Homo sapiens: one gene and its partners. The protein of the gene in region 1 interacts with the protein of each later gene in a biochemical or structural test. Each region holds a gene or a part of one and is shown in the gene's direction. Other genes may lie near its edges.

What was found.
Region 2: the proteins of EIF4ENIF1 (region 1) and LSM14A are reported together in a solved structure, tested with the Homo sapiens proteins (one study listed by BioGRID).
Region 3: of the proteins of EIF4ENIF1 (region 1) and PASK, one has a biochemical effect on the other in vitro, tested with the Homo sapiens proteins (one study listed by IntAct).

What each region holds. Positions count from the first base shown.
Region 1 is NC_000022.11:31,457,743-31,468,230, reverse strand, and holds part of EIF4ENIF1 (eukaryotic translation initiation factor 4E transporter), read left to right. Parts: coding exon 1-56; intron 57-4,263; coding exon 4,264-4,550; intron 4,551-5,097; coding exon 5,098-5,299; intron 5,300-9,580; coding exon 9,581-9,756; intron 9,757-10,488. UniProt on the Homo sapiens protein: EIF4E-binding protein that regulates translation and stability of mRNAs in processing bodies (P-bodies). Plays a key role in P-bodies to coordinate the storage of translationally inactive mRNAs in the cytoplasm and prevent their degradation.
Region 2 is NC_000019.10:34,167,055-34,177,940, forward strand, and holds the start of LSM14A (protein LSM14 homolog A), read left to right. Parts: upstream 1-5,449; 5' UTR 5,450-5,588; coding exon 5,589-5,709; exon of another isoform or gene 5,710-6,418; intron 6,419-10,886. UniProt on the Homo sapiens protein: Essential for formation of P-bodies, cytoplasmic structures that provide storage sites for translationally inactive mRNAs and protect them from degradation. Acts as a repressor of mRNA translation. May play a role in mitotic spindle assembly.
Region 3 is NC_000002.12:241,131,004-241,141,491, reverse strand, and holds part of PASK (PAS domain-containing serine/threonine-protein kinase), read left to right. Parts: intron 1-738; coding exon 739-971; intron 972-1,436; coding exon 1,437-1,607; intron 1,608-2,697; coding exon 2,698-2,838; intron 2,839-3,404; coding exon 3,405-3,539; intron 3,540-4,227; coding exon 4,228-4,488; intron 4,489-5,452; coding exon 5,453-5,621; intron 5,622-7,654; exon of another isoform or gene 7,655-8,062; coding exon of another isoform or gene 8,063-8,210; intron 8,211-8,461; coding exon 8,462-8,618; intron 8,619-10,488. UniProt on the Homo sapiens protein: Serine/threonine-protein kinase involved in energy homeostasis and protein translation. Phosphorylates EEF1A1, GYS1, PDX1 and RPS6.

The sequences.
Region 1 (10,488 bases):
AAGTCTGAAGAAAGAGTTGGATACAGACCGGCCTTCCCTGGTGCGCAGGATAGTAGGTGAGCACACAGTCACTCAGAAGTGGGGTTAGTGATTTTGGGGACATGCTTTTGCCTGCTGGTTTCATTCTTAGCTCTGAGAATTTTATGCTTTGAGGGGAAATGTCATTATCAGGAAACTGATTTATCGGTTGGATTTTTCCTAATCAGCAGGGTAAAGTCATAGTCTACTTTGTCACAGCTATATAAGAAGACTGTTAGGCTGTGTGCTTCTGAATTAAAAGTACCGATTATCTTTCACTGGCATGGATAACTGAGTTAGATGTGGTGGGTAGCATAAAGCTGTGCTGGAAATCTCATTATGCTTTCTTTCATATGTGAGACCAGTCCTCCGGTATAAATTAGTTCTGGCAATTCTTTTTTTTTTGTTCTGTTTTTTTTTGAGACGGAGTCTTGCTCTGTTGCCTAGTCTGCAACCTCTGCCTCCTGGGTTCAAGCAATTCTCTGCCTTAGCCACCCAAGTAGCTGGGATTACAGGTGCCTGCCACCATGCCTGGCTAGTTTTTGTATTTTTAGTAGAGATGGGGTTTCACCATCTTGGCCAGGCTGGTCTTGAACTGCTAACCTCGTGATCCACCCACCTCGGCCTCCCAAAATGCTGGGATTACAGGCATGAGCCACTGCGCCCGGCCTAGTTCTGGCAATTCTTAATTCATAGTGGACTGTGATCGGAATAAAGGCTTGGATACGGTTTGAGACTGAAGTTAAGTCTGATCTTCCAACTTTCCTAGTTTAAAGTTTACCCCTTTAGAAACGTTGTTTAAGGGTGAAATGGAGACCAGGTAATATAAAAGCAGTCAAGGAACTTGTTGCAAGAACTTTTTTTGAGATGAGAGGACGACTCATCATAAAAACTTGGAACTAAACGAAAAAGATAGCCCGGCTCTAGTTTAAGCTATAAGACCCTTCTACACAGTCTGTCAGTACACTCAGTACAGTAATGTCTCTCAAAGAATTTATTCTAGCAGAATCATTAAAGATATGCAGAGACTTTATTAAAATGATGAAAACTGAGAAGGAACCTAAATATCCAACAGTAGAAATGGGTCGCGTAAACTTCGGTGTATCCATATATGGGAATGTTACATTGCATTGTCCTGTAAAACCATGTTGCAGATGTGTTTATTGGCAAATAATGTTCATGACGTACTGACTCATAGAAAACTCTCCATATTGTATCCTGTGTTTGGAAAAAACAGACTGCACAGAAATTCTGTAAAAGTACACAACAGAACATTCTAGGAGCTGTTTGTGATAACAGAATTAAAGCAGATTTTTCTCACATGGACTAATCTTCAGTTTCCTGGTTTTTCTAGGAAGACATTTTTTGTATGGTGACATGTTTGTTCTTCCTACACCAATAAATTTATTGAGATAGAATTTACATATAGCCTGCACAAAAAGTATACCATTTGATGTCTTGACATGTGTATATACCTGTGAAACCGTTACCAAAATCAACATAAGCATTTTTATCACCCCCAAAAGTTCCCTAGTATTCCTATGTGTCCCTCCCTTTAGCTGCCCCCCCCACAACACTTCCCCCTTCCCAAGCAAGCGCTGATTTGCTTTGTTTTTTTTTGTTGTTTTTTTGAGACAGAGTCTCCCTCTGTTGCCTAGGCTGGAGTACAGTGGCGTGGTCTCTGCTTACTGCAACCTCTGCCTCCCAGGTTAAAGCGATTGTCTTGCCTCAGCTTCCTGAGTAGCTGGGATTACACATACACGTTCCACCGTGCCCAGCTAATTTTTTTTTCCCCCCACCGAGACAGAGTCTTGCTCTGTCACCCAGGCTGGAGTGCAGTGGCGCGATCTCGGCTCACTGCAACCTCTGCCTCCCGGGTTCAAGCGATTGTCGCGCCTCAGCCTCCCAAGTAGCTGGGATTATAGGCGTGCGCCACCATGCCTGGCTAATTTTTGTATTTTTAGTAGAGACAGGGTTTCACCATGTTGGCCAGGCTGGTCTTAAACTCCTGACCTCAAGTGATCCACCCACCTCAGCCTCCCAAAGTGCTGGGATCACAGGCATGAGTCACCGTGCCTGGCCCCAATTTTTGTATTTTTAGTAGAGACAAGGTTTCCCTATGTTGGCCAGGCTGGTGTTGAACTCCCAACCTCAGGTGATCCACCTGTCTTGGCCTCCCAAAGTGTTGGGATTACAGGCATGAGCCATAGTGTCCGGACTGATCTGCTTTCTGTATCTGCTTTCTGTTTCTATAGATTAGTTTACATTTCCTAGGATTTTATATAAATGGAGTTACTATAGTATATACTCCTTGTATAGCTTTTTTCATTAAGAATAGTTACGATTTATCCACGTTGTTGAGTGTCTAGTTTATTTTCATTGCTTAATAGTATTCCATTGTATGGATTTAGCAGTTGATCCGTTTATCTGTTGATGTACATTTGGGTTGTTTCCAGTTTTTGACTGTTAAATAACCAAAGCTGCAATGAACATTCATGTACAAGTCTCTGGACATAAGCTTTCTTTTCTCTTGGGTAAAAACCTAGGATTAAAATGGCTGGGTTGTATAGCAGATGTATGTTTAACCTTCTGGGAAATTGCCAAACTGTTTTCCAAAGTAGTTGTACCATTTTACGTTTCCACCAGTGGTGTATGAGAGTTGCACTTGCTCCAACATCCTCATCTGCACTTGGAATGGTCATTTAAATTTTAGCCATTGTAATAGGCGTGTAGTAGTATCACATGGTTTAATTTGCATTTCCCTAATGACTAATTATGTTGAGTATCTTTTCATATGCTTATTTGCCTTCCACATAACCTCTTTGGTGAAGTGTCTGTTCAAACCATTTGTCTATTTTTCAATTGTGTTGGTTTTTTTTTTTTTTTTTTGAGACAGAGTCTGGCTCTTGGTGCCCAGGCTACAGTGCAGTGGTGCAGTCTCAGCTCACTGCAACCTCCACTTCCCAGGTTTAAGCGATTCTCCTGCCTCAGCCTCCCAAGTAGCTGGGATTACAGGTGCCTACCACCACGCCTGGCTAATTTTGTATTTTTAGTAGAGACGAGGTTTCACCATGTTGGTCAGGCTAGTCTCGAACTCCTAACCTCAGGTGATCCACCTACCTCAGCCTCCCAAAGTGCTGGGATTACAGGCGTGAGCCACTGGGTTGGTTTATTAAGAGATTTTATGTGTTCTGAATTTAAGTCCTTTATCAGAAAAATGCTTTGAAATATTTTGTCTCAGTCTGTGGCTTGTCTTTGCATTCTCTAAACAGTGTCTTTCAAAGAGTAGAAGTTTTAAATTTTGATCAAGCCCAGTCTATCAGTGTTTTTTAAATGGATCATGCTTTTGGTGTCATGCCTAAGAAAACTTTGCCTAACCCAGTGCCACAAGGATTTCCTCCTATATTTTGTTCTAGAAATTTTTAGTTTTAGGTTTTACATTTAGATCTGTGATCCATTTTGAATTAATTTTTGTATATATCTGTTTATATATATATATATATATATATATATTTTTTTTTTTTTTTTTTTTTTTTTGAGACTGAATCTTAGTCTTTTGCCCAGGCTACAGTGTAGCGGGGTGACTTCTGCTACTGCAACCTCTGCCTCCAGGTTCAAGCGATTCTCCTGCCTCAGCCTCCCAAGTAACTGGGATTACAGGCACCTGCCACAATGCCTGGCTAATTTTTGTAGTTTTAGTAGAGACGGGGTTTCACCATCTTGGCCAGGCTGGTCTTGAACTCCTAACCTCGTGATCCACCTGCCTTGACGTCCCAAAGTACTGGATTATAGGCGTGAGCCACCATGCCCGGCCCCAAATATAGATTTAAGTTCATTTCTTTGTCTGTGGATATCTAACCGTTCAACACCATTTTGTTGAAGAGACACTTTAACTTTTTAAGCAGTTATTTTTTCAAATACGCCTGCTGTAGTTTATTAGTTGACAAAACATTTGCTAATAATTCTTAGATAAGGATTTGGTCAAAATAAAGGCACTGCAAAGACTAATCATGGAAAATTATTTATCGTGACGTACTTCTATTGCTGCAAAGAGGAAGGCCAATGTCTCAGCCTTATTTAAATACATAATGTACATGTTACCCTGAATCTGCTGATAAGCCCAATTTTAGTGGTGACTCTCTTCCAACCATCCCCTTCCTCCCATCAGTCATGGACATACTATCTAAAAAAGAAGAAAACACCCTTGTTGGTTTGTTTAACTTTGTCTTTCCCACGTCCTTCCAGATCCACGAGAGCGTGTGAAAGAAGATGACTTAGATGTTGTTCTCAGCCCTCAGAGACGGAGCTTTGGAGGGGGCTGCCACGTGACAGCCGCTGTTAGCTCCCGGCGCTCAGGAAGTCCATTAGAGAAAGATAGTGATGGGCTTCGTCTGCTTGGTGGACGTAGGATTGGCAGTGGGAGGATAATCTCTGCCCGGACCTTTGAGAAGGATCACCGTCTTAGCGATAAGGACCTGCGGGACTTGAGAGACAGAGACCGAGAGAGGGACTTCAAGGACAAGCGTTTCAGGGTTTGTCTTTTTTTTTTTTTTTTTTTTTTAAATTGAGACGGAGTTTCGCTCTTGTTGCCCAGGCTGGAGTGCAATGGCACGATCTTGACTCACTGCTGCCTCAGCCCAGTATCTGGGATTATAGGCACGCACCACCATACCCGGCTAACTTTTTATATTTTTAGTAGAGACGGGGTTTCTCCATGTTAGTCAGGCTGGTCTCTCAAGCTCCCAACCTTAGGTGATCGGCCTGCCTCGGCCTCCCAAAGTGCTGGGATTACAGGCGTGAGCCACCACACCCGACCTGGGTTTGTCTTCTAGATTCTTTGGTAGTTCATGTGCTTGGGGACTTGATATTCACTTTTTTTATACCAGGTTACTTTGAGAACAGGCATGAACACAGCCTGCTCTTAAACCAGTCAGGGAGGAAGGGGTGGGGGTGGTGATGGGCCTCAGGTATACAGCATCATATCTTCCTTTCACTATTGAACATTACAACGAAGACCTTGACTGAAGTAGAAATGGCTTGACTAGAAATTTTTTAATCTTGCTTTATGTACTTTTCCAGAGAGAGTTTGGAGATAGTAAGCGTGTCTTTGGTGAGCGTAGAAGAAATGATTCTTACACAGAAGAAGAACCAGAGTGGTTCTCTGCTGGACCCACAAGTCAGTCTGAAACCATCGAACTGACTGGCTTTGATGATAAGATACTAGAAGAAGATCACAAAGGGAGAAAAAGAACAAGGCGACGGACAGCCTCTGTGAAGGAAGGTCAGTTCAAACTTTGGGAGGGAAGTTCGCTGTTTTAAAATGAGATGTAGGCTGGGCGTGGTGGCTCACACCTGTAATCCCAACACTTTGGGAGGCCGAGGTGGGCGGATCACCTGAGGTCAGGAGTTTGAGACCAGCCTGGCCAACATGGTGAAACCCCGTCTCCACAAAAATTCAAAAATTAGTGGGGTGTGGTGGCTGGTGCCTGTAGTCCCAGCTACTCGGGAGGCTGAGGCACAAGAATTGCTTGAACCTGGGAGGCAGAGGTTGCAGTGAGCTATCACACCACTGCACTCCAGCCTGGGTGACAGAGCAAGACTGTCTCAAAAATAAAATAGAGATGTGATTATCACTGGCTAATTGTACACTTAGGAATGGGCACCAGATGTATAGGAAATGGCAAGTTTTTCATGATGCATCCTGATTTTGAAATCTTTTTTTTTTTTTGAGACGGAGTCTCGCTCAGTTGCCCGGGCTGGAGTGCAGTGGCACCATCTCAGCTCACTGCAGCCTCCATTTCCTTGGTTCAAGCGATTCTTCCCTGCCTCAGCCTCCCGAGTAGCTGGGATTACAGGTGCCTGCCATGACGCCTGGGTAATTTTTTCTATTTTTAGTAGAGATGGGGTTTCACCATGTTGCCCAGGCTGGTCTCGAACTCCTGACCTCAGGTGATCACCCGCCTCGGCATCCCAAAGTGCTGGGATTATAGGTGTGAGCCACCATGCCCAGCCCCTGCAACTGCTTAAGTGAGGATTCACTAAGTGTAGATCATACTGTTTCCCTAACTCGTTCTGCCTGCCACACTAAACAGAAAAGTCTGAAGTTATCCTGTAAGAGGACTGTGTACATGAAAGAGTTCCCCAGAAATAAGAAACGTGGTAGAAAAATGAGAGGTCTCATTTATTGAGCAATTATGTCCTAAACACAGTGGTGAGTGTATTTTGTCTGTGTAATCCTTCATCTCCTAATGACCTTGTGCAGTGTAGGTACTTTTTTATGCCCATTTCATAGATGAGCAAATGGAGGCTCAGAGGGCTTAAGTAACTCAAGGACACTTAAGGTAGTCACCATGGAAATAAGTAGTGAAGTCAAGAGTAAAGCAAGATGCTTCTGGGCATCAGAGCCTACCTTCTTCATCATGGTATTAGGCCTTCCCAGGTCAGTTGTTTGTGATTTGCCTTCTCTCAAACTTAGTTTCAGGATGAGTACGGTGGCTCACGCCTGTGATCCCAGCACTTTGGGAGGCCAAGGCGGGTGGATCATTTGAGGTCAGGAGTTTGAGACCAGCCTGGCCAACATGGTGAAACCCTGTCTATATTGAAAATACAAAAATTAGCTGGGTGTGTTGACGCATGCCTGTACTCCCGGCTACTGGAGAGGCTGAGGCAGGAGAATTGCTTGAATCCAGGAGACAGGTTGCAGCGAGATTGTGCTACTGCACTCCAGCCTGGGAGACAGAGTTGAGACTCTGTCTCCAAAAAAACCAAAAAAACCTAGTTTCCTCAGCTGTAAGATGGGGTCAGATATCTCCCTTGCTAAACTGAAGGAGCCAGAGCTAATGTGTGTGAAGTACCTGCTGCAGAGTGGGAGCCCATTGGTCTGCAGCCAATCATTTTTTAGGGCAGTGACCTGGCTCTAAGGTGGCCAGTCCCAGGCTGATGGTCTTGGGAAGGAGGCACTGTAGAGCCAGGTGGGGACTAACCTGGGTTAAAGTACTAGGGCTCCTGCTTAGAAAAGGATAATTTTTGACAAAATTTTGACAGCTGGGCCTGTTTCTTTGTAAAGGGAAGAACAATGCCTATCATAACTTAAGGGTTACCTTTAGCATTGAAGAACACATGTACCCATCAGAACTCAGCCTCCAAGAAGGCACTCAGTAAATTCTACCTGCCTCAAGCTTTCAGGCTTAGTTGAAAGCCTTTTGGCAGATACTAGGCAACAAAAGGGGAAAGCCTTTTTTTTTGTTTTTTGTTTGTTTGTTTGTTTTGAGATGGAGTCTTGCTTTGTTGCCTAGGCTGGAGTGCAGTGGCACGATCTTAGCTCACGGCAAACTCCGCCTCCGGGTTCACGCCATTCTCCTGCCTCAGCCTCCCGAGTAGCTGGGACTACAGGCGCCCACCACCACGCCCAGCTAAATTTTTGTATTTTTAGTAGAGATGGGGTTTCACTATGTTAGCCAGGATGGTCTCGATCTCCTGACCTCGTGATCCACCCGCCTCAGCCTCCCAAAGTACTGGGATTACAGGCGTGAGCCACTGCGCCAGTCCTCTATTTTTTTTTTTAATTAATTTTCTTTTTTTTTTGAGACGGAGTCTCGCTCTGTCACCCAGGCTGGAGTGCAGTGGTGCGATCTTGGCTCACTGCAAGCTCCGCCTCCCAGGGTCAAGCAATTCTGCCTCAGCCTCCGGAGTAGCGGAACTACAGGCGCGTGCCAACACACCCAGCTAATTTTTTGTATTTTTAGTAGAGATGGTGTTTCACCGTGTTAGCCAGGATGGTCTCAATCTCCTGACCTCATGATCCACCTGCCTCAGCCTCCCAAAGTGCTGAGATTATAGGCGTGAACCACTGCGCCTGGTCTGGGAAAGCTATTTTAATAAATAAGGGAAAAATCAGTGCCACCTTAACATTTTGATGAAGACAAATATAAGCAGAAATAAGCTGATGGCATTTATTTAGAAGGAGAAGGAAATGGAGAATCAAAATACTCATCTTCTTTTGTAGTCTTCAAAATATAGTACATATTACCATTATCTTTGTGCTATCACACAGTGTTCCCTAGGATAATGTAAGAAATTGATAGGTAACTTGGAAGACTTTGCTATTAAATTGGCTTTGAGATATGTCTTTGTCTCATTCTTAATTAAAGCAGCACCCAATAAAGCACCACTTTAACGATAAAGATCAGGCTTCTGGTGAGAAAAAATTATGTTTTTCTTAAGTGAGGTGAAATCTGAATTTCAACCATTCTTGTATCAAGTGCAGGAGTCAGGAGTGAGATAGATTGGTAGTGGCACCTCCTTATTTTACAGATGCAGAGAGAAATTGAGACCTGGAGAGAAGGGATGGATTTCATGGCAGAGCCTGGAGTAGAATCCAGGGGTCTTGGTTCATCCCATTAGCTAACTACAGAATGTCTCTAGGTTGCCCTTGCTATGTATTTAAAATAAATAAAAACATTAAAAACTAAGATGTCAGATGCCTTAAATGTTAGCATCTGGCAGTTTCACTTTGTCTCCCCATCCTAAAAACAACTGAACATTGTAGAGTATACCTGGCACTACAGAGTAAGACAAAGCTGGTTAGACCAGGTTCCCTACCCTCAGAGTTTAGCCTCACCAGAGAGTTACTATTATACAGTGTGACAAGTACTCAGAGATGACATAAGGATTATAGAGAAGGTAGCAATTAATTTTACTAGGTAGGGCAAAAATGGGTAGGCAGGGCAAGCTTCCCAGAGAAGGTCACATTTGAATTTCGCCTTGAAGGATGAGCTACAACAACCAACCTGTAGGCAAGTGAAAATTGCCCTCATGCCAGGTTTCTCATAAATACCTTAGGTTGCTGAGCCCTGACTGAAAGTGGTGCTACAGGTGCATGGGCAGAAGCAGAGCTAAATTAATTTGGTTCCATTTTTAAGCAGTAAGAGACTTGCAAAGACTATCCTTTAAAAAAAAAATCACTAGAAAAAGAACTAGGCATGGTGCTGGACACAGTGGCTCACTACTGTAATCCTAGCACTTTGGGAGGCCAAGGCAGGAGGATCACTTGAGGTCAGCAGTTTAAGTCCAGGCTGTGCAATTTAGCGAGACTCAGTCTCTACAAAAAATTAAAAAATTATCCAGGCATGGTGGTGTGCACCTGTGGTCCCAGATACTCTGGAGGCTAAGGCAGGAGGATCACCTGAGCCCAGGAGGTAGAGACTACAGTGAGCTGTGATCGTGCCACTACTCTCCAGCCTGTGCAACAGAGCAAGACCCCATCTCAAAAAAAAAAAAAAAAAAAAGACCCCCCTCCACTATAGAAAATATGAAGTTCCCACGAAGGGAACCATAATCCTCCCCACATCCCATTGGTATTCTAGCTTTATTAAGGCTTTTTTCCTTTTCTGCCTCCCGTAGAAGGGGGACTGTTTTATTCTTGCAAGTACAGTACCTGCACGAGAAGTCTGCTTTTTAAGTCATGTGTGGCTCTTCTACATGTATACTGATGGCTGAAGCCACAGAGGGACACTGGAGTGATTTACTTATCAGACGGTTTTTGTCCTGGTTTTGCTTTCAGGTATAGTAGAGTGCAATGGAGGAGTGGCCGAAGAGGATGAAGTGGAGGTCATCCTTGCACAGGAGCCTGCGGCTGATCAGGAAGTGCCAAGGGATGCTGTCTTGCCTGAGCAGTCCCCAGGAGACTTTGACTTTAATGAGTTCTTTAACCTTGATAAGGTGCCATGCTTGGCTTCGGTGAGTGTAGCAGCACACTTAAAAAATGTGTGGTTAAATTTGACCTGAGTATTTAAGACATCGGTTTGAAAGTGTTGTTTTGCTAGATGCTTTTGGGGTTTTTGGCTTTTATTCTTACATATTTAAATTTTTGTTGGCTTTGTTTTGAGAGGCTTAATGGATAATATGAGATTTTTGTACCAGTTAACTCTTTTTTAAGCTGGTGGTGTTAGACTAAAAATTCTTTTTTTGTTGTTTTTTTTTTTTTGAGTTGGAATCTTACTCTGTCACCCAGGCTGAAGTGCAGTGGCACGATCTTGGCTCATTGCAACCTCCGTCTCCTGGGTTCAAGCGATTCTTCTGCCTCAGCCTCCTGAGTAGTTGGGATCACAGGTGTGTGCCACCATGCCCAGCTAATTTTTGTATTTTTAGTAGAGATGGGGTTTCACTATGTTGGCCAGACGGGTCTTGAACTCCTGACCTTGTGATCCTCCTGTCTTGGTCTCCCAAAGTGCTGGGATTACAGGCGTGAGCCACCGCACCTGGCTTTTTAAAGTTATTTTTAGAATTCCTGTTTATCACTAAGATGCTTATATTTTGGATACACTCCCCAATTTTTCACAGTGATGTATCATGCTTATCTTATATTTTAATTAATACAAAATTAGTGCACTTAAAAGTCAGCATTATTTAAGGTATGAGCATCTACAGGTGGAATGTGATTGAAATTGTCTAGATAATTCCTCTGAAAAT
Region 2 (10,886 bases), on another chromosome or scaffold:
AAAGTTTGCCTTTTTGAGATAGAATTCACATATCATAAAATTCACTCTTTTTTTTTTTTTTTTTTTTTTTTTGCGATGGAGTCTTGCTCTGTCGCCCAGACTGGAGTGCAGTGGCGTGATCTCGGCTCACTGCAACCTCTGCCTCCCAAGTTCAAGCAATTCTCCTGCCTCAGCCTCCTGAGGAGCTGGGATTACAGACGCCCGCCACCACGCCCAGCTAATTTTTTTTGTATTTTTAGTACTACGTTGGTCACGTTGGTCTCGAACTCCTGACCTCGTGATCTGCCCACCTCAGCCTCCCAAAGTGCTGGGATCACAGGCTTGAGCCACCGCGCCCGGCCCTAAGTTCACTTTTTAAAGTATACAATTTAGTGGGTTTTCGTATATCCACAAAGCCATGCAACCATTATCATTATATACTTCCAGACATTTTCTTTTTTCTTTCCCTTTTTGAGATGGAGTTTCACTCTTGTTGTCCAGACTGGAGTGTAATGGCACTATCTTGGCTCACAGCAGCCTCCGCCTCCCGGATTCAAGCTATTCTCCTGCCTCAGCCTCCCAAGTAACTGGGATTACAGGCGTGCGCCACCACGCCTGACTAATTTTTTTGTGTTTTTAGTAGAGACGGGGTTTCACCATGTTGGCCAGGCTAGTCTTGACCTCCTGACCTAAGGCGATCCACCAGCCTCGGTCTCCGAAAGTGCTGGGATTACAGGCACAAGCCCCTGTGCCCATCCTACTTCCAGACATTTTTATCACCCCAGAAAGAAACCCTGCGCCCCTTGGTAGTGACTTCCCATTCCTACTCCTCACCCCCATGTCCCAGCCCCTTGCAGCCACTAATCTACTAATATTTTCTGCCTCTGTGGATTTGCCTGTTCTTGGTGTTTCTTTTTTTTTTTTTTTTTTTTTTTTTTTTGAGACAGAGTCTCGCTCTGTCGCCCAGGCTGCAGTGCCTCTCGAGTAGCTGGAATTACAGGCATGAGCCACTGACAGTGAGCTTATCCTTTTTCCATCTGTAACAATTTCCAAATGTACACCTCCATTTCAGATCTCCTGACTTTTAGGGTCATACCAATTATGAAATAGACGCAATTGCTTGGTGTCCCAACAGGCACTTCCAGCTCAACAAGTGCAAAATTATTTGCATCTATTAGTATTTCCATCCTCCCCCCAAATAAACTTCCTTTTATCCGTTCTCCTTATGCTCATCACTAGCCCTAGGACTGACCTAGGTGTTCAGTCCTGGAACTAGGAGTCCTTATCTGGCTACACCCAATCAGTCACCAATCTGTTAGATTCTACTTTATGTTTTGCAACTCATGGTTTCCTGCACCCTAGGGCGGCAGGAACTATGTATAATGCAGCTGATCAGTTGGTAGCCCCTAGTGTAATATGCACATTAATCTCCGTTTCATGTACTAGAAACAAGGTTGAGAACCGTGACACATTTTATGACCATCGCAGGCTTCCTAAAGATCCAAAATCCATTGTTGCTTCCCTGCTTAAGAGCTCCCGGCAACCTGCAGAAAAACTAAATTCTTCCCCATTCATGTTTTCAGCAGTAGAAGCTCTAGAATTTCTACACTTGAGGAGCTATGGGGTAAGAAAGAAGATCTGGAGGATTTGCGAGGCTTGTCCAAAGCAATTCCCAGCTAGTACACTGTTTTTTCCTTATATTTGTCTTTACTTTATGAGGCTAGGGGATGGCTGTTGGACAATATGGGAGAAACAAAGCCCTCAACCCTCACCACCTTTGGTGTGGCCACTGCTATCCACTATAACTCCTAATATACTCTGCATTCTTTAGGCTGTGGCCACACTGAATTGCTTACTTTCCAGAATGCATCTCACTCTTCCTCCTGTAATCACTCCATCTCCTGTTTGATCTGAAAGCTTCTTAATCCCATCTCTATTTCAGGCAAGATTTGAAGTCCCCCTCATACCATAGACAAAAATTGGCTCAAAATAAATCAAAGACCTAAATGTAAGAGCTAACACATAAAACTTAGAAGCAAACATTATGGGTAAATATTTGTATCCTGGATTAGGCAATGCTTTATTGCATATGACACCAAAAGTGCAAACAACAACAACAACAAAAATGAATAAACTGGACTTTATAAAAATTAAAAACTTTTGTGCTTCAAAGGACACTATCAAGAAAGTGAAAAGACAACCAATCCGCTGAATAAGAGAGACTATTTACAAATTATAGATCTGATTAGGGACTTGTATCTAGAATATATAAAAGAACTCTTGCCACTCAACAATAAAAAGAAAAATTGCCCAATTTAAAAGTGTTTAGCTGGGTGTGGGGCTCAACGCCTGTAATTCCAGCACTCTGGGAAGCCAAGGCGAGAGGATCACTTGAGTCCAGGCATTTGAGACCAACCTGGGCAACATGGCAAGGCCCTGTCTCTACAAAAAAATACAAAAATTATCTGGGCATGGTGGTTTGCACCTGTGGTCCCAGCTACCTGGGAGGCTGAGGTGGAGGATTGCTTGAGCCCAGGAAGGTTGCAGTGAGCCATGATAGGGCCACTGCATTCCAGCCTGGATGACAGAGTGGCACCCTGTCTCAAAAAGATACACAAATGGCGGGGTGCGGTGGCTCACGCCTGTAATCCCACCACTTTGGGAGGCCAAGGAGGGCGGATCACCTGAGGTCGGGAGTTTGAGACCAGCCTGACCAACATGGAGAAACCCCCACTCTACTAAAAATACAAAATTAGCCGGGCTTGGTGGTGCATGCCTGTAATCCCAGCTACTAGGGAGGCTGAGGCTGGAGAATCTCTTGAACCCGGGAGGCGGAGGTTGCGGTGAGCCAAGATCACGCCACTGCACTCCAGCCTGAGCAACAAGAGCGAAACACCGTCTCAAACAAACAAACAAAAAAAGATAGACAATAATAGGTGTTGGTGAGGCTGTGGAGAAAATTGGAGCCCTCATACAATTGCCAGTGGAAATGTAAAATAGTGTAGCTGCTTTGGAAAACAGTTTGACAGTTCCTCAAAAAGTTAAACTCTGAGTTACCATATGGCTCAACTACTTCATTCTTAGGAGGATTGAAAACACATGTTCCCACAAAAACTTGTTCATAGAGGTACTCATGGATATTTATAATAGCAGAAGTGAAAACAACCCAAATGTTCATCAACTGATAAATGGATAAACAAAATATGGTATGTCCATACAAAGGGATATTATTTAGCCTTGAAAGAATTTCCGGGCACGGTGGCTCACGCCTGTAATCCCAGCACTTTGGGAGGCCAAGGCAGGTGAACACTTGAGGCCAGGAGTTCAAGACCAGCCTGGCCAACATGGTGAAACCCATCTCTACTAAAAATACAAAAAATCAGTCAGGCGTGGTGGCATGCGCCTGTAATCCCAGCTACTCGGGAGGCTGAGGCAGGAGAATCGCTTGAACAGAGGAGACAGAGGTTGCAGTGAGCCGAGATGGCACCATTGCACTCCATCCCGAGTGACAGAGTGAGACTGTCTCAAAAAAACAAAAACAAATAATTCAACTTCCTCGCATGGACCTTGTACTGAAACAGGGATTTCCAAACCTTTCTTTGTAGCCACTGTGCACCAGCCCCATCAGAGCTCTGTCTCTCTCCTGTGTCCCTCTCTTATGATGCCAGGCTTCTCGCCATTTGCTCACTCAGCTCACCGTCCTGCCTGTGCTCTGCCTTCATCCTGCTGTTCATTCATGCAGCAAATATTAACTGAGCAGCTGCCCTGAGCCACGTGCTGTTACTAGGCCCCTGATGATACGGCAGCAACCAAAACAACATCACTATCTCAAAATGTTTACATTCTAGTGAAGGAGACAGATACATACAAATAATTAAACAGACATACTTGAGAGAGATACATGCTATAAAGAAAATACAAGCTGAGTTAAGGAGATGAGTGGTATTATTTTAAACAAGGCTGTCAGGGACGTCATCTCTGGAGGTGATGCTTGAGCAGAGACTGGAATAAAGTGCTCAAGTACTGGTTGAATTAGACGCGACTGGAACAGAACGAGAAGCTAAATCATGTATATCCTTAGACACCAAAGTCTGGTTTTCTCTCTGTGTAACATGGGATCAGTAGAGTGAGTAGAGGAAGGACATGATCTGAGTTAGATTTTTTTTTTTTTTTTTGAGACGGAGTCTCGCTCTGTCGCCCAGGCTGGAGTGCAGTGGCACAATCTCGGCTCACCACAACCTCCGCCTCCTGGGTTCAAGCAATTCTCCTGCCTCAGCCTCCCAAGTAGCTGAGACTATAGGCGCGCGCCACCACGCCTGGCTAATTTTTTTATATTTTTAGTAGAGACGGGGTTTCACCATGTTGGCCAGGCTGGTCTCGAACTCCTGACCGGTGATGCGCCCGCCTCGGGCCCCCAAAGTACTGGGAGTACAGGCGTGAGCCACTGCGCCCAGCCCTGAGTTAGATTTTAAGAAGATCTCTCTGGCTGCTGTATTGAGAATAAAGTACTGGGGGCAAGAGTTGACACAGAGGCAACTTTTAGAAGGCTACTGCAATAATTCAGCCCGAGTAATCGTGGCTTGTGGGAGAAGTGTAGGAATGGAGATGAGAAGTCAGATTTAGGATATATTGTGTATACATAACGGAGAGGTGTAGTCAGAACAGATGTGGAAGCAAGACAGGGCAAGGCTGACTCACGGCTTTTAGTCTGAGCAGCTGAGTAAAAATGGTACCGTTTACATCAAATAGGGAACGGTGGTGAAGGAGCAGGTTAGAGGGGAAACAGGGAGCATGGCTTTGGACCCTTAACGTTTGAGATTCGACAGAAACCCTGGTTCACGGAATTGATCCAAGCTACATACTGATAATTGGGATTAGTGAGTTACAATGGCGTTGCAAGCCATGAAACTGGTTCAGACCGGCTGAATGAGCGGGACAGGAAGGGGCTGAAACACTTGAGTCCTTGTGAGAGCCCCAGCTCCAGGGGCAGCCTCGGGGGAAGCTCCCCGGGCGATGACTGCGGTAATGGAGCCGTAGGAGCTCCACGAGGTGCAGGTTCAGCGTCTTAGAAGGATGAGCAGCGGCTCGCCACAGCTCGGAGGCGGGTGGGCAGCGCTCCAGGCCGAGGGCCCCGCGTCGGCAAAGACACAGGACCCACGACAAGGCGGCCACGGCCTGAGTCAAAAGGAAGGCCGCGCGCCTCCTCTCCAGCCCGCAGCAAGCGGGTGCCACGAGGCACTCAGCCGGTCCCCGAAGTTCCTCTCACGCGGCCCCAAGACCACCACCGTAGTCCAGGCCAACAAGCGCTGCCGGGACTCCCGAGGCCACGAATGAGCCGGGAGCCACCAGTAGCCGGCCAAGTCTCGCGAGAGCGCGGCCTCGCCCTCCCAGCATGCCCCGCGCCGCCGCCGCTGCCGCCGCCGCCGCCGCCGCCGCGCCGCGGCTTGAGGGCGGGAGGCTGGGGGAGGGTAGCGGAGCCGGCGCCGCCGCCATGTTGGGTCTGAAGCGGCTGCTGTAGGCGCCGACGGAGCGAGCGGGCGTGCGGAGCGGGCGACAGTGGCGTGGGATCTGCCTCTCTGCGAGCAGCTGGGAGCGGCGGCGGCGGCGCCATGAGCGGGGGCACCCCTTACATCGGCAGCAAGATCAGCCTCATCTCCAAGGCGGAGATCCGCTACGAGGGCATCCTCTACACCATCGACACCGAAAACTCCACCGTAGCCCTTGCCAAAGGTACGCGGGACCGGGCCTCAGGGTGGGGGCCGAGCCGGGCGCCGCTCGGGGCTGCTCCCCGCTCCGGCCCGCGGCCTCCTCGTTCCCTCCCCTCCCTCCGTCGAGCTCCGGGAGGCCTCTCGCCTCCCTTCTCCGGGCCCCGGCGTCGCGGGCCGGACCGCGGCCTCCCCGCGGCTCCCTGGTTTCCGCCCCCCGGAATGTCCGCGCCTGAAGCCCGGGGAACTACGGGACTGAGTGCGCGGCGGGCGGCCCTGAAGTCCGAGAACGGGCCGGAGAACACGGAGAAACGCGTCTTCCAACTCCGAAATTCGGGGCTTCTGCCGTCTTAGCACAAAACAAAGCCGGAGTATTCAAAGAATTTTTCCGCCCAGCTTGAGTTCATCGCGGATGCGTTGACTACACAGCACCCATTTTCTCACTTTGTTCATTTCAATTCGTGGCGATCTTCCTCTGGTGAACTCTTGAGTAATGTGCTAAAACTTTGGGTTTGCTCTGCGACGCAGACATTCTCGAAATGCCATCGATGCCGTGGAGCAGATCCCATCTCCCTCGGCTCATCCTCTGTTGGTATTTACCTGTTAAACCGGAATCCTCAAAGCCTGTTGTGCAACCACCTCATTAGGGCGCGTGGTAAAAATGCTTGCTGCTGCCCCGACGCCCCTGTTTCTGGAAACGGGTTCAAGCTTGATCCAGGATCCTTCTTGACCAGGCAAGCTTGACCTTTGATCCAGGCTCAGTGGGCGTTGACTGATCCCTCTGGAGGCTCTCTGGGAAAGGGAATTCGGCCGAGAAGGAAGGTGCCCCTACCCACAGTGTTAATATTTGGCATCCCTAGAGTCTGTGTGGGTTTTGTTTCCGTTCACACGTGCAGGGCCTTTGCTCCGCCAGGAAACCAGAAAGAAAATAAACTTTAGCTCCTGAATCTTAAAGGAAATCTCACAACAGTGTAAAATACTTTGAGGGAAGCTAGATAACCTAGGTGATTTTCCCAGCACTTCTGGTAGAGGTGGGAACTGCATAGCATGGTTAGGGACCCTGTGGATAGGTTAGGTCCAAGGATAAAGAAGAAGATTTTCGAAATCTGTAAAATTTTAAAAATCGTTAACAGATAGGGGAGTGGTTTCACGGGATCAAGTATTTAATAATATTTCTTGGATGCTCTGGTAAATCCTTTATTTATTTATTTATTTATTTATTTTTCTAAGATGGAGTTTAGCTCTTTTTGCTCAGGCTGGAGTGCAAAGGCAATGATTTCGGCTCACTGCAACGTCCGCCTCCCGGGTTCAAGTGATTCTCCTGCCTCAGCCTCCCAAGTAGCTGGGATTATAGGCGCCTGCCACCACCCCTAGCTAATTTGGTATTTTTAGTAGAGACGGGGTTTCACCATGTTGGCCAGGCTGGTCTCGAACTCCTGACCTCAGGTGATCCACCCGCCTCGGCCACCCAAAGTGCTGGGATTACAGGCATGAGCCACCGCGCCCAGCCTCTGGTAAATCTTTTTAATAGCCCTGGTGTTGGGACAAATCTTATACCTGGGTAGGGAACCTTTTGATGTTACAGAACTGTACACCATAAAGGAGTAGTATGAGATGGTGATAGTTGCACAACTCTGCAAATTTGCTGAAGATCATTGAATTATACACTTTTTAAAATCACCAAGTCTAATTTTAAAAGTAGTATGAAAAACCAGGGAGTACCCCCACATTTCCCTCTTCACCTTGTGAAACATTATGCAGTGACACATTACCTCATTAAAACACCTGTAGACTTGGCGGTTAGAAATCGGCTATAGGATGTATGATGGATGGTATTTGGTGTTTATTAAAGACTTTCCCAGTGATGCTTCTTAAGTAACTTAGTTTTTGCTTGGCCTTATTTTGAATTTATTTTTATATTTTTTATACAATAGTTACTTAGCTGTATAGTGTTTTTCTGGCTTTTTGAAATTATGAAAAAGCCTCTCTTTATGAAATTATGAAAAGTGCTGGGTGAGAGCCAGATATGGGTTGAAAATAATTTCTCATTAAAGTGGTTTAATAAATTTGTTTTAAAGTATTGCTTTACCTAATCTGAATTTAAAAGTGTCTTGCCAGCTTAGTGACTCAATAAGTTGGCTGTGTTACCTTTATTCCTCACAAAGAAAAAAAATACATTTGAAAATTTTAAAGTATTTTTGTTCTTTTTTAAAAACTACGAACATATCCTTTTATGCAGGAACCCCAAAAGTCTACATTTTAACAACCCACATTTTAAAAAACTTTTCAGCAGCTTTTAGAGTCAGTATTTCATTAGTCTGTAATAGTTAAATTCATATGACATAATGACATAAAATATAAATTTGTTCTTTGTGTCATGACTTGATAAATATATGAATATAGCAGTGAAAAATTTTTTTAATCATTGAATTTATGTTTGTACTCATGGCTTTGATATTTCATCCCACATCATTATATGCTTTTTCTTTTTCTTTTTTTTTTTTCTTTTTGAGATGGCGTCTCACTCTGTTGCCCAGGCCGGAGTGCAGTGGCACAATCCTGGCTCCCTGTAACCTCTGCCTTCCAAGTTCAAGCAATTCTCCTGCCTCAGCCTCCTGAGTAGCTGGGATTACTGGCGCGTGCCACCACGCTTGGCTAATTTTTGTATTTTTTAGTTGAGACAGGCTTTCACCATATTGGCCAGGCTGGTCTTGAACTCCTGACCTCAAGTGATCCACCTGCCTCAGCCTCCCAGAATGCCGGGATTACAGGCATGAGCCACCGCACCCGGCTGCTTTTTCTTAAGCAACATGAGTTAAATGTGTAACCAGTTTGGGGAATTTGATTATGTTCGCAAAAACTGACATTATCAAACCTTTATATATTAGTCTACATGATATTATCTAATCGAAAACTACATTATAACTGTCTAGTCAATACTGGACACATTTCAGATTTCAAGATTAGAAGCAAGGAGTTCAATCTTAAAATTTTAAAATTTACATGACTTGTTGAGTAATTCGATATCAGAAAATTTCACCTTCCATTTCAAAATTTGAACGAAGAATGGTAGTCTAAAAGATTAAAGCCAAAAGTGTTTGTTTTGTTTTGTTTTCGTTTTTTTTTGTTGTTGTTTTGAGACAGAGTCTTGCTCTTGCCCAGGCTGGAGTGCAGTGGTGCGATCTTGGCTCGCTGCAGCCTCCACCTCCCGGGTTCAAGCAGTTCTGCCACAGCCTTCCGAGTAGCTGGGACTACAGGCGCCCAACACAGCTGGCTAATTTTTGTATTTTGAGTAGAGACGGGGTTTCACCATGTTGGCCAGGCTGGTCTCAAACTCCTGACCTCAGATGATCCACCCACCTTGGCCTCCCAAAGTGCTGGGATTACAGGTGTGAGGCACTGCACCCGGCCTGAAGCCAAAAGTTTATTCATGGAATTTATAATACAGTGTGTATTTGGATGTAGAGATCCCTGTTACTGTTTTTAAACTATGGATTAAGAGTTAATCTCTTTGAGTAACAGTCTTAGCATTCTCTTTTGAACTTTTTTTTTTTTAATTTCTCAGGGAGAGTGTTATTGGGAAACCTAACTACACAGGCTGAAAAGATACATAAGATAAAAATGAAATATTTTTAAACAAACATCTTTGTAACCACCACCCAGGGCAAGACAGACATTGCCAGCATCCCAGAAGCCTCCCACCACCTATATTTTCCCATCACAACTATCACCATCTTAATTTAAGCTAGATATAAATGTTCTTCTGACATTTATAGTTTTACCATATAAGTTTACATCTCTAAATAATAGAGTTTAATTTTGCCCATTTTTAACTTTATGTAAATAGGATTGTGTTGTATATATTTTATTTTTAGCTTTTATTGTTTCATAATATTCCATCATGAATATAACACAAGTTTATTCCTTCTGCCATTGTTTTGGATATTGCATTTAGATTGTTTGCAGTTTGGGGCTATTATAAACAATGCTTTTATGAACATTTCTGTTTAAGTGCACTGGTGCATGTTTATTTCGTTTTCTTGAGATTATATACTTAGAATTTGAATTGCAAGAACATGGGGAATGTTGGTCTTTATCAGGTAATGCCAGGTAGTTTTTCAAAGTAGTTGTTTAGTGGTTTTTACTTCATTTATTAGTATGTAAGAGTTCTTGTTTCATATCCCTTACCAACAACCGTACGTGGTATCATATATTTCAATTCTAGCCAATCCTGGTGGGTATGTAGTTGTATTTAGTTTTAATCATTTCCCTCATTACTAAATGGGGCTGACCAGCTTTTCATATCTGGGTGTTTGGATTTCATTTTTCATAAAATGCCTTTGAAATCTTTTCCTTTTTTAAATCGAAACACGTCTTTTTCTAGAGTTCTGTATTCTGAATATATCTCCATTGTTGGATGTATATATTGCAAACATTTTTTCCATTTAGTAGTTTCTTTAAATTAACAGAAGTTCTTCATTTTAATGTAAACATGTTCATCAGTTTTTTATGGCTAGTGTTTCTTTTTTTAAAACATCATAGAGATACTTTGATTATCTTTAAACCTTTTTGTGCTTTGCTTTTTCACATTGACGTTTATAATGCATCTGAAATTGATTTTGTGTACAATGTGAGATATTCAGAGCTTTATATTTAGTAAGGGATTCACTTGGTTTATATTGTCCATATTATAATTTAGGGCTTGGATATTATAATTTAAATATATCTGGAACTATAAACTACTCTTGAAATTTTTGGCTATTTACATTTGATGTGGTATATAATTAGGGTAACCATATGGCCTAGTTTGCCCTGGTGGAAAGTCCTTGTTTGTGCCTGCTCTGGCATAATTATTAAAAACATCCCGGCTGGGCAGGGTGACTCAGGCCTGTAATCCCAACATTTCCAAAAGGTCAAGGCCGGGGTATTGCTTGAGCCCAGGAGTTCAAAACCAGCCTCGGCAATACAGGGAGACTCCATTTCTACAAAAAATTTTAAAAAGTGCATTAGCCAAGCATGGTGGCATGCATGTCTGTCGTCCCAGCCACTTGGGAGGCTGAGGCAGGGGGATTGCTTGAGCCCAAGAGGAGCTGTGATCATGCCACTGCACTCCAGCCTGAAACATAGAACAAGACCTTGTCTTAAAAAATAACAATGATAGCCTGTAATCCCAGCACTTCAGGAAGCTGAGGCAGGCGAATC
Region 3 (10,488 bases), on another chromosome or scaffold:
AGGAATGACGGGGCTGAGGGTTTTGGGAGCCATTGGAGGCGTTGCTGAGAGAACGCTGCACAAGGAGCTCTTGAATCGTAGGAACGCTTCCAAGGAGGAGGTGACGGGGCAGCCACCGGAGTGGCCATGGGGTCTTGGAATGACTGACAGAGGACAGAAGGTGGGAAGGAAGGAACCTTTGAGTGTAATTAAGCTTTTTTGTTTTTTGGGACAAGGTCTGACTGTTGCTCAGGCTGGAGTGCAGTGGCGCAGTCATAGCTCGCTGCAGTCTCAAACTCCTGGGCTCAGGCAATCCTCCTGCCTTAGCCTCCTGAGTAGATGGGGCTGCAAGGGCACGCCACTATGCCCAACTGATTTTTACAAATTTTATTTTTAGTAGGGACAGGGTCTCGCTGTGTTGTCCAGGCTGGTCTTGAACTCCTGAACTCAAGCAACCTTCCTGCCTCAGCCTTCCAAAGAACTGGGATTATAGGCACGCCTGGCTTTGAGTGTAATTTAGACACAGAAGTGTTGATCTTATGCTGTTTGTGCTTCCGAGTGGACCTGGTGGTTGCCTAAGTGGATTCTGGGGACCATGTTCAGACACGCAGTGAGAGTGTGTGTTAGCTGTGCAGACTGACTTAATCCTTAGATCTTTTTGCAGGAGTTGAGGGCAAGGGCTGTGTGCTTTGCCTGTTTCAGAAGGTGGACTCTGGCAGCTGTGTGAAGTCTAAAGCTTCGCTTCGCTTCTCTTTTCAGAAGACAGATGGAGCTCCTATTGTCTATCATCACTGGCTGCCCAGAATATTTGTACAAGTAAACTGCACTGCCCTGCTGCCCCTGAGCACACGGACCCGTCCGAACCGCGGGGCAGTGTGTCCTGCTGCTCCCTGCTGCGGGGACTGTCCTCAGGGTGGTCCTCACCTCTGCTTCCGGCCCCTGTGTGCAACCCTAACAAGGCCATCTTCACGGTGGATGCCAAGACCACAGAGGTATTTGCTTCTCTTTTAGATCCAGCTGTGTAGATGTGGATTTGTGGTTTGTGCCTTAAACCTGGGATTTGTGTGTTTTAATGCAATTAGAAAAACATTTGGGCACTTCGGGAGGTGGGAAGTTTGCTTGAGCCCAGGAGTTCAAGACCAGCCTGGGCAACATAGCAAGATCCCATCTCTACAAAGAAATTAGCCAGGTGCGGTGGCACACACCTGTAGTCCCAGCTACCAGGGAGGCTGAGGCAGGAGGATCACTTGAACCCAGGAGTTCAAGGTTGCAGTGAGCTCTGATTGCGCCGCTGCAGTGAGCTCTGATTGCGCCACTGCACTCCAGCCTGGGCAACAGAGTGAGACCCTGTCTGTCAGGAAAAGGCTGGCTTCTGCATGGTCGTCCTGGGCTGTTCTGGGCAGCTGGTGGAGCTGCTGGGGATGTCTGCATCCTTGCTCCTCTTTGTGATTCCTCAGATCCTGGTTGCTAACGACAAAGCTTGCGGGCTCCTGGGGTACAGCAGCCAGGACCTGATTGGCCAGAAGCTCACGCAGTTCTTTCTGAGGTCAGATTCTGATGTGGTGGAGGCCCTCAGCGAGGAGCACATGGAGGCCGACGGCCACGCTGCGGTGGTGTTTGGCACGGTGGTGAGTGGATGCGGGTGCAGCGTTCAGTCTGGCCTCAAGACCAGCAGTGTGTGGCAGGAACAGCTCAGTGTTCCCTACCAGGAGCTCTGCTGGGGGTTGGGTGGCACCAGGACATCTCAGCTTCTTCAGCTGAAAATGTCATCCCAGGCGCCGTTTCCCCGCTTCAGCTGCAGTGGGGGTGGGGGCCCTTTAAGAACGAATCATCGCAGGAATGGACACTGTGGCTGTGGCTGGACTCCTGGGAGGTGTCGTGGGTGGCCCTTGCTTTGTCTGAGGGCTGTAGCTTCACTAATGTTTTGCAGTCCTGCCGGGCAGCACATCAGATGCTCAAGAGTAATATGGTTTTATTGTCTATTGATTTTTACATTCTGTTTGGTGTTTGTGGGAGCGGGCGGGGGTGTTGGCCTGGAAGCATTTCCCTAGACAGTGTTGATTCTCTCACCTGTGCCATGTGTCCAACCTGGATGTTGACAGGTGAGCTGAGTTGGATGTGGAGGACTGAGCCCAAGGCATGGAAAAAGCCCAAGGCATGGCTGATTGTAGGGTTTCCCCTCGTCAGCCGGTCGGGGACTGGGGGAGTAGCGTTGGAGGGCAGTGGAGGTTGGGGTATGATCTGAGGCTCTAGTAGTCATCCAGATCCTCCAGGTTGCCTGTTTCCCACCTAGTGTGTGGCTTTCACACAGAAGACCCCATTGCTTGAACTGAACTGATGTCACAGGCTTAGGACCAATTGTATCAGAAAATCACTGGTTCAAGAAACTGACTACTAAGAAGAAAAAAACTAAGATATTCACCATGTGTTGGTGTCTGTTTCTTTAAGAAATAACAGATACTGCTTTTTTCACCCTGCAATATTACCATGAACTGAGAATGAAATCTACTCTCTTGATAAAACTTGCACTTGGAGATTTTAATGTTCAGTATGGGAAATCTTGTTTGTGCTTTGGTAAATTTCTGAAATGAAAATCAGGTAAGCAGAAGTTGAAAACGTTGCAGTGCCTGGAGTTTGGGCCTCCTGGAGGCAGGTGCCCCACCCATACTGGTCTTTTGGGTTCATGGCATGCAGGTGTGAACCTGTCTGTTTCCACAGGTGGACATCATCAGCCGTAGTGGGGAGAAGATTCCAGTGTCTGTGTGGATGAAGAGGATGCGGCAGGAGCGCCGCCTATGCTGCGTGGTGGTCCTGGAGCCCGTGGAGAGGGTCTCGACCTGGGTCGCTTTCCAGAGCGATGTGAGTGTGCAACTTTGCCTCATGTCTCATGGACGCTGGAGCCGGCGTCGTTCTCCTCTTCAGCAAGTGCTGGTCCCTGTCTCATTCCTTTGGGAAGAAAGAGAGGATGAGGAGCCTGGAGGGTCTGCCCAGTGGTACCCTCGCTGATTGCGTGTGCTTGGGCAGGGAACGAACTTCCTATACTTCAGTTCCTCACCTGTGAACTGGGGCATAATCATAACTCCTCATAAGATTGTTTCAACATTTAAATGAGATAATATATGTAAACCCCCCAGGATAGTAGCTGGCATTAGAGACAGCCCTCATATGTGAACTGGGATGTTATTAATGAGCTGTGGTGTGGGCCAGGCTCCTGAAGAACAAGAAGGCCCACAATTTAGGTACGTCTCTGGTAGAAGGAGACAGATGATGAAGCTCTTATCAAATTCATGTGTATATGTCTCTTGCCCTTCCGATGGAGAAGTCATGTTGGGGTCTTGCTTTTGGCTTGAACATATTGAAGCTTAGTTAAATTTACAGCTGGAGCACAAGAAGCTTTTATGATAAGCACGGGGCTTTTCCTCCAGGGCACCGTCACGTCATGTGACAGTCTCTTTGCTCATCTTCACGGGTACGTGTCTGGGGAGGACGTGGCTGGGCAGCATATCACAGACCTGATCCCTTCTGTGCAGCTCCCTCCTTCTGGCCAGCACATCCCAAAGGTAGGGCTCCTGACCTCCCGCACTGTGTGATGGGGTGGAGTTCTTAGCTCTGAATCCATAACTGGAGACGCAGACCAAGGGTTTCTGAAGGCAAGGGTGGCCTTAGGGGTGGGACATGCTCAGTTTTGAGCTTCCTGTGCGCTGAGGCCTTGACCAAGGGCCGGAGCCTATGTGGTCTCCCAGCTGACCACTCTTGTCCCCTGAGTCTTCTCCCAGGAGCTGGGCCACCCACAGAGGTGGATGCTGGGACGCTGCCCAAGGCTGAGGGGTGGGAGGTAACATCCACAGCTGCGCAGCTGGTGTAGTGCTGCCTGTGGGGCCAGTATCCTGGTGCCAGATCAAGGATGGCACAGTTGCCAGTGGCGTGGCTGAGCCCCGAGCCTGAGCCCCACAGTCCTCCCTCCCTCCCTCCCTGCTGGTGCCCGGCCCCTCACTGGGGTGTCTCACTTGCCCTGGGGTTGCTGTGCCTGGGGCGGCTCTGGACACTGAGTCCTCCCCACCCACAGAAGGGCTCTTTCCTGGGCCAGCTGGGCCTGGGAGGAGAGGGAAGGCAGAGCAGTGTGGGTGTGAGATGTCCTGGGGACCTTCCCCGATGACGTGGGGTAGAAGTCGGGTCGGACGCAGCACAGACTCAGTGCTCTGTCCACGTGAAACACGGCTTAAGCCAAACGACAAGCCTTTCTTTCAGAATCTCAAGATTCAGAGGTCTGTTGGAAGAGCCAGGGACGGTACCACCTTCCCTCTGAGCTTAAAGCTGAAATCCCAACCCAGCAGCGAGGAGGCGACCACCGGTGAGGCGGCCCCTGTGAGCGGCTACCGGGCATCTGTCTGGGTGTTCTGCACCATCAGTGGCCTCATCACCCTCCTGCCGGATGGGACCATCCACGGCATCAACCACAGCTTCGCGCTGACACTGTTTGGTTACGGAAAGACGGAGCTCCTGGGCAAGGTGGGGCTGCCCTGGGCGCCTGGCTCCCGTTCCCTGGGAGGAAGCTGCTGTGCTCTGCAGTGCGGGCTTGCGTGTGGCACAGGCCTCGCACCCGGCAAGCTCTCCAGCTCGCTCCTTTACCCAGGAAGGACCTTGGGTCCAGGGAGGGAGGTCCCTGCTCATGGCTGCCAAGCTCCTTCCTCTCCACCCTTCCCCAGCAACCACCGTCGGAGGGAGAGGAGCACTGTGCTTCGAAGCCCTGAGAGATCTGGTCTGACTGATGGACCAGGGTTTACGACACAACTGCGGGGGTTCATTTCTCACCCTAGTAGAAATACTAAAAAGTAGCTAAGCTGAATTGTAGTTACGTTAAATTTAAGTTAGTTAAAAAGCAGTTAGTGTTCTTCCTGGATGAGGGGTTCCCACAGGAGCTGAGGGCATTGAGACCTTGCAGGGATTTTGGGGGCATGGACACTTGTGCCCTCTGTGAGGTTAGAGCGGGTTCTGGCATTACAGCTATGGGCAGTGTCCCGGTGAGGGGGCCACACACAGGTTCAGAGGAAGCATCTGTCAGAGCAGCTCCTGGCCTGGGAGGAAGGCCCCACAGTCCTTCTGTCCTGGGTGCATGTCACTGTTCCGGCCACCAGTGAGCCGCGTGAGGTGAGGCTTGCAAACACAGGCTCCCAGATCCATCTAAACATGGGGCCAAAGGCCAGATGTCTGCTCCAAAGATGTGTCGATGTCACTGTAACTTGCCGCAGAGTATGTTTTTACCTTTTTCTTAAGGGGAAAATCACAGATCACATGTTGAGCATCTGAGGGGCTTCAGGTGCGTCGAAGGGCATTTGGCCCGAGGCCTTTCCTGACCTTAAGGGTGAACCCTCAGGGACTGGCTCTCCTTGTGTTCATTCCTCCCCCAGGGGGACGGTCCAGTGGGTCAGCGTGGATCCTCCAGGTTCTGAAATGTCCCTGCTTTGTTTTCTAGAATATCACTTTCCTGATTCCTGGTTTCTACAGCTACATGGACCTTGCGTACAACAGCTCATTACAGCTCCCAGACCTGGCCAGCTGCCTGGACGTCGGCAATGAGAGTGGGTGTGGGGAGAGAACCTTGGACCCGTGGCAGGGCCAGGACCCAGCTGAGGGGGGCCAGGGTAAGACGTCCTCTTCCTCCTGAATGCGCCTGTAGCTGCTGAGCCCCAGACAGCCCCATGCCTCTGAGACAGGGCTGGGAGGAGCAGGAGCTATTGTCCCTCCAGAGGCTCAGGGGTGGTGGGGGGCGGAGTAGGGGGTGACTGTTTTCTGGTTTGATGTTCCTCTCTGTCTCGGGGGCTGTGACATATTCTTATAAACATATGAGCATAGAGAAGAGAATAGAAAACCCCCCAAGAGTGCATCACCAGTGCCCATGATATCCGAGACACAGCATCCGAGACACAGCTAACTGACCGTCTTGTCTTTTCTAAGTAAACTTATATAGCTTCATGTAGTTTAAGTGAAGCCATGTAGCATATCGGATTACCGCTGACCCTTGAACAACTGGGTTTGACATTAGAGGGTCCACTTATACACAGATTCTTTTCAACCTCAGAAATCCAGTACTGGTGGGAGGTGAAGTTGGCGTATATGGAGGGCTGACTTTCCATGCACCTGCGTTCCACGGGTGGGCTGTGGGACTTGAGGGTGCTCGGATTTTGGCATTCTGGGGGTCCTGGAACCCATCCCCTGAGTGTACTGAGGGTTGACTGCAATTCCTAAATTGAATGTTCTACCAGTATTTCCTGGTTTAATTATGTTTATCCCACATAGTTTTAATTTAACATTTTAAATGATTTCAACAAATACTCCGAGTCCCTTTCATATGCACAGTCTTAGGTGTGTGGCTTGTGAAGACAGGGTGAGCACACTGCCTCCTGTCCCGAGGGACCCACTCTGGCTGGGAGCAATGAGGGGCAGTAGAACCCGCTGATGTCCTGGCAGGGCCCACGCCTGAGCTCCTGGTAAGGAGCAGGCCCCTGGCTGCTTCCACAGTGCTCATTCTTGTTGACAAGCATGGGGTGGGGGTGCGCCCTGTCCCTGGCTCTGCCCTGGTGGGGACCCCGGAACTCTGCCTCCAGGGCCTCTGCCCACCTGGAGCGTGGGCTCACTGGGTGTGGTTCTGGAGTTCCTGGGGCAGGCTGGGGCCCAAGGGTCCAGGTGATGGTGTGGCAGGGGTGTCAGGTGGGGGGGTCTCTGTTCTATGGAAGGACACAGTGGGGGTGAGAGAGAGAGAGTGGCCAGTGCTGGCAGAAAGCACAGCCACCTCGGGGCTCTGCATCGTGGTGGGGCCAGGCGGGTCGGCAGGTGCTGGCTTGCGAGGTTGTCCTGCATGCGGTCACTCGGGTATCGAATGAGTGCGAAAGTGGATTTAATACAGTCACTGAGAAAAACTACAGCTTCACGAGACTGACCAGCCTGGTGAGATAAACATTTACCGTCAGACACTCTTTAGCTGTCTGGGCATTGTGTGAGTTCTTTGGCACATGCGCCCAGCCTCCTTCCCCACAGGGTCTCGCCTGGGGCATTAGAAGCTGGATTGTAACATTTGTTTTAAAAGATACTTTGTTAGGCTGTTGGTTCTCCTTACAATCCCGGCTTTCCTTAGCATGTGGTTCCCTTCATTGTATCTGGGTTTTTCTATCTCAGTCTGTCCTTTATACAAGCTTTTTCCTCTAGCACTAATTATATTCCCCTTCCCCTTTTTCCAGAATTCCAAATTCTGACCTGTGCATGCATGCCTGTGTTGAGTACATGCTGTTTGTCGGATATTTGGTGGTGGGGGGAGGGGATCACATTTCTGTTACTCTCGCATTGTTTCCTTAGGATGAATTCTTAGAAGTGGAACTTCTGGATTCAGGGAATGAACACGTTTGCTAGTTACTGTCAAAAATGCCTCTTGGAGAAGTTATGCCGAACCACCCAACTGTCCTGGTCACAGAGCAGGCTTCTCTCGGCTTGGGGCTAGGGTTCTTTCTGGGGTCGTCCTTTTTTTTTTTTTTTTTTGAGACAGAGTTTCGCTCTTGTTGCTGAGGCTGGAGTGCAGTGGCACCATCTCGTCTCACTGCAACCTCTGCCTCCTGGGTTCAGGTGATTCTCCTGTCCCAGCCTTCCGAGTAGCTGGGATTACAGGGATGTAGCACCATGCCTGGCTAATTTTGTGTTTTTAGTGGAGACGGGGTTTCTCCATGTTGGTCAGGCTGGTCTCGAACTCCCAGCCTCAGGTGATCTGCCCGCCTCGGTCTCCCAAAGTGCTGGGATTACAGGTGTGAGCCACTGTGCGTGGCCTCCCAGGGTCCTTCCTAATGCAGGCTGCTTTCTCTCATGTAACCAAGAGACATACATTCATCCCCTACCACGTGCCAGGCTGCACTGCGTGCAGATGCCCCTGCGCTCACGGGGACTGGAGGGAGCCAGGTGACATGGAGCCCAGGAAGTGGCCAGAGCTCGGGAGGAAGGCAAAGAGGGGAAGAGGGCATGCAGTCTTAGGCTTGGGGTCCCAGGAGGCCTAGGGAAGCCTTGTAGATACCCAGGTACAGCATTTCTGGGATCAGGAGCCATGATCCCAAGGCCTCTAATACTTCAGATATGGCAGGGAGGCCAGGTGGAGAGACCTGGAGGAGTGAGGCCACAGAGTTGGGGGGCCATGGCCGAGACTTCGGCTTCTATCCAGAGTCAGATGGGAGCTGTTGGAGGGTTGTCAGCAGGTGAGTGCCGTGCTCTGACTTGGGTGTTAATAGGATCATGGTAGCTGGCTGCAGGTGTCCTGGGCCAAGGAGCAGGGAGACAGGAGGCAGAGAAGAGGGCGCTGGGTTGGACCTGGGACGCCTGGGGTGGTGAGAGGTGGTCGATGCTGGTCATGCTGTGAAGCAGTCTCAGTGAGTTCCAGGCGAATGAGCAGATTCGTTTTAGGGAGTGCCTGTGAAGAGCAAACGCTCTTTTTTGGTGTTGCTGCCAGATCCAAGGATTAATGTCGTGCTTGCTGGTGGCCACGTTGTGCCCCGAGATGAGATCCGGAAGCTGATGGAAAGCCAAGACATCTTCACCGGGACTCAGACTGAGCTGATTGCTGGAGGCCAGCTCCTTTCCTGCCTCTCACCTCAGCCTGCTCCAGGGTAAGTCCCTTGGTGGGAGGTTGCAGGTTTACTAAAAGTCCAGACAGATGGTAGGTGAATGAGGAACAAGTCAGAGAGAAATGTTCAGCCTATTATTCATAGTAACATTGAAAACTCACATGTGTTGAGCACCTGCTCTCTTCCACACACACTGACTGCTGGGTTTTCTGTGCTGCCTGGCTGAGTCCTTATCAGCCTGTATGGGAGGGCACCATGGTGTTACTGTCTCACTGTAGGGATAAGGAAACAGGCTGTGGAGAGTTCCAGAATGTTGAGGTAGATTTCAGAGAACTGATGGAATCATAATTTTATCATTTTCTTTTTTTTTTTTTTTTTTTTTTTTTTTAGACAGAGTCTCGCTGTGTCACCCAGGCTGGAGTGCAGTGGTGCGATCTCAGCTCATTGCTCATTGCATTGCAAGCTCCGCCTCCCGGGTTCACACCATTCTCCTGCCTCAGCCTCCCGAGTAGCTGGGGACTACAGGCGCCCGCCACCACGCCCGGTTACTTTTTTGTATTTTTTTTAGTTTCACCATGTTGGCCAGGATGGTCTCGATTTCCTGACTTTGTTATCCACCCGCCTTGGCCTCCCAAAGTGCTGGGATTAATTTTATCATTTTCAAAGTCATATGAAGCTGTTCTCTTTGCACATTTTAAAATATTCTATTTAGAGTAAAGAAAGTTTATATTAGAGAATTAGGAACATTTGGAAAAGTAGAAATAAAAACTTGTTCTATTCTCATAGTCGTATTGTACATAGCACGTGTGTGTGTATTTTTAACCCATTTTCTTCTTCGGAATCTTTTTTTTTTTTTTTTTTTTGAGATGGAGTCTCACTCAGCTGCCCAGGCTAGAGTGCAGTGGCGTGATCTTGGTTCACTGTAACTTCTGCCCCCTGGTTCAAGTGATTCTCCTGCCTCAGCCTCCTGAGTAGCTGAGACTACAGGCACCTGCCACCACGCCCGGCTAATTTTTGTATTTTTACTAGAGGCGGGGTTTCACTATGTTGGCCAGACTGGTCTCGATCCCTTGACCTCATGGTCCACCCGCCTTGGCCTCCCAAAGTCCTGGGATTACAGGTGTGAGCCACCATACCTGACCCAGAATCTTTTCTTATGCACAGCATGCAGTAAAGGTGCCCAAACTGTAGGTGCCCAGGTGGCCCAGGACCCTTTCTTGGCTGCCTGCAGACCCTGGGTCCCTTCCTGCACTGTGCCCCCTACACCCTGCTGCCCTGGGTCAGGGCAGAGGTTAGACTGCCTGCCGTTGAGCCTGACGCATGCATTTCCTTCTGTCTGCCTTCTGCTTATTGCTGTGTCTGTGATATTTATCCACATAGTTGTGTTTTCTAGTCTTGAAATTATTTAAAAAATATGTAATAGATACATATAAAGTATGTATGTATGTTTAAAAATATGTAATGCATGGGCCAGGCGCGGTGGATCACGCCTATAATCCCAGCACTTTGGGAGGCTGAAGTGGGTGGATCATGAGGTCGGCAGATGGAGACCATCCTGGCTAACACGGTGCAACCCCGTCTCTACTAAAAATACAAAAAATTAGCCAGGCATGGTGGCGGGCGCCTGTAGTCCCAGCTACTCGGGAGGCTGAGGCAGGAGAATGGTGTGAACCTGGGAGGCGGAGCTTGCAGTGAGCCTAGATCGCGCCACTGCACTCCAGCCTGGGCGACAGAGTGAGACTCCGTCTCAAAAAAAAAAAAAAAATGTAATACATGCATATGTGTTTTTTTAATTATAGAAGAATAATGGTAAAAGCAATAGTTCCCCTGGCCGTCTTCCAATCCCCCTCCTCCAATCCTACTCTTTCCCCCAGGGGACCGCAGTCAGCAGTTAGAGCCTTCCAGGCCTTCT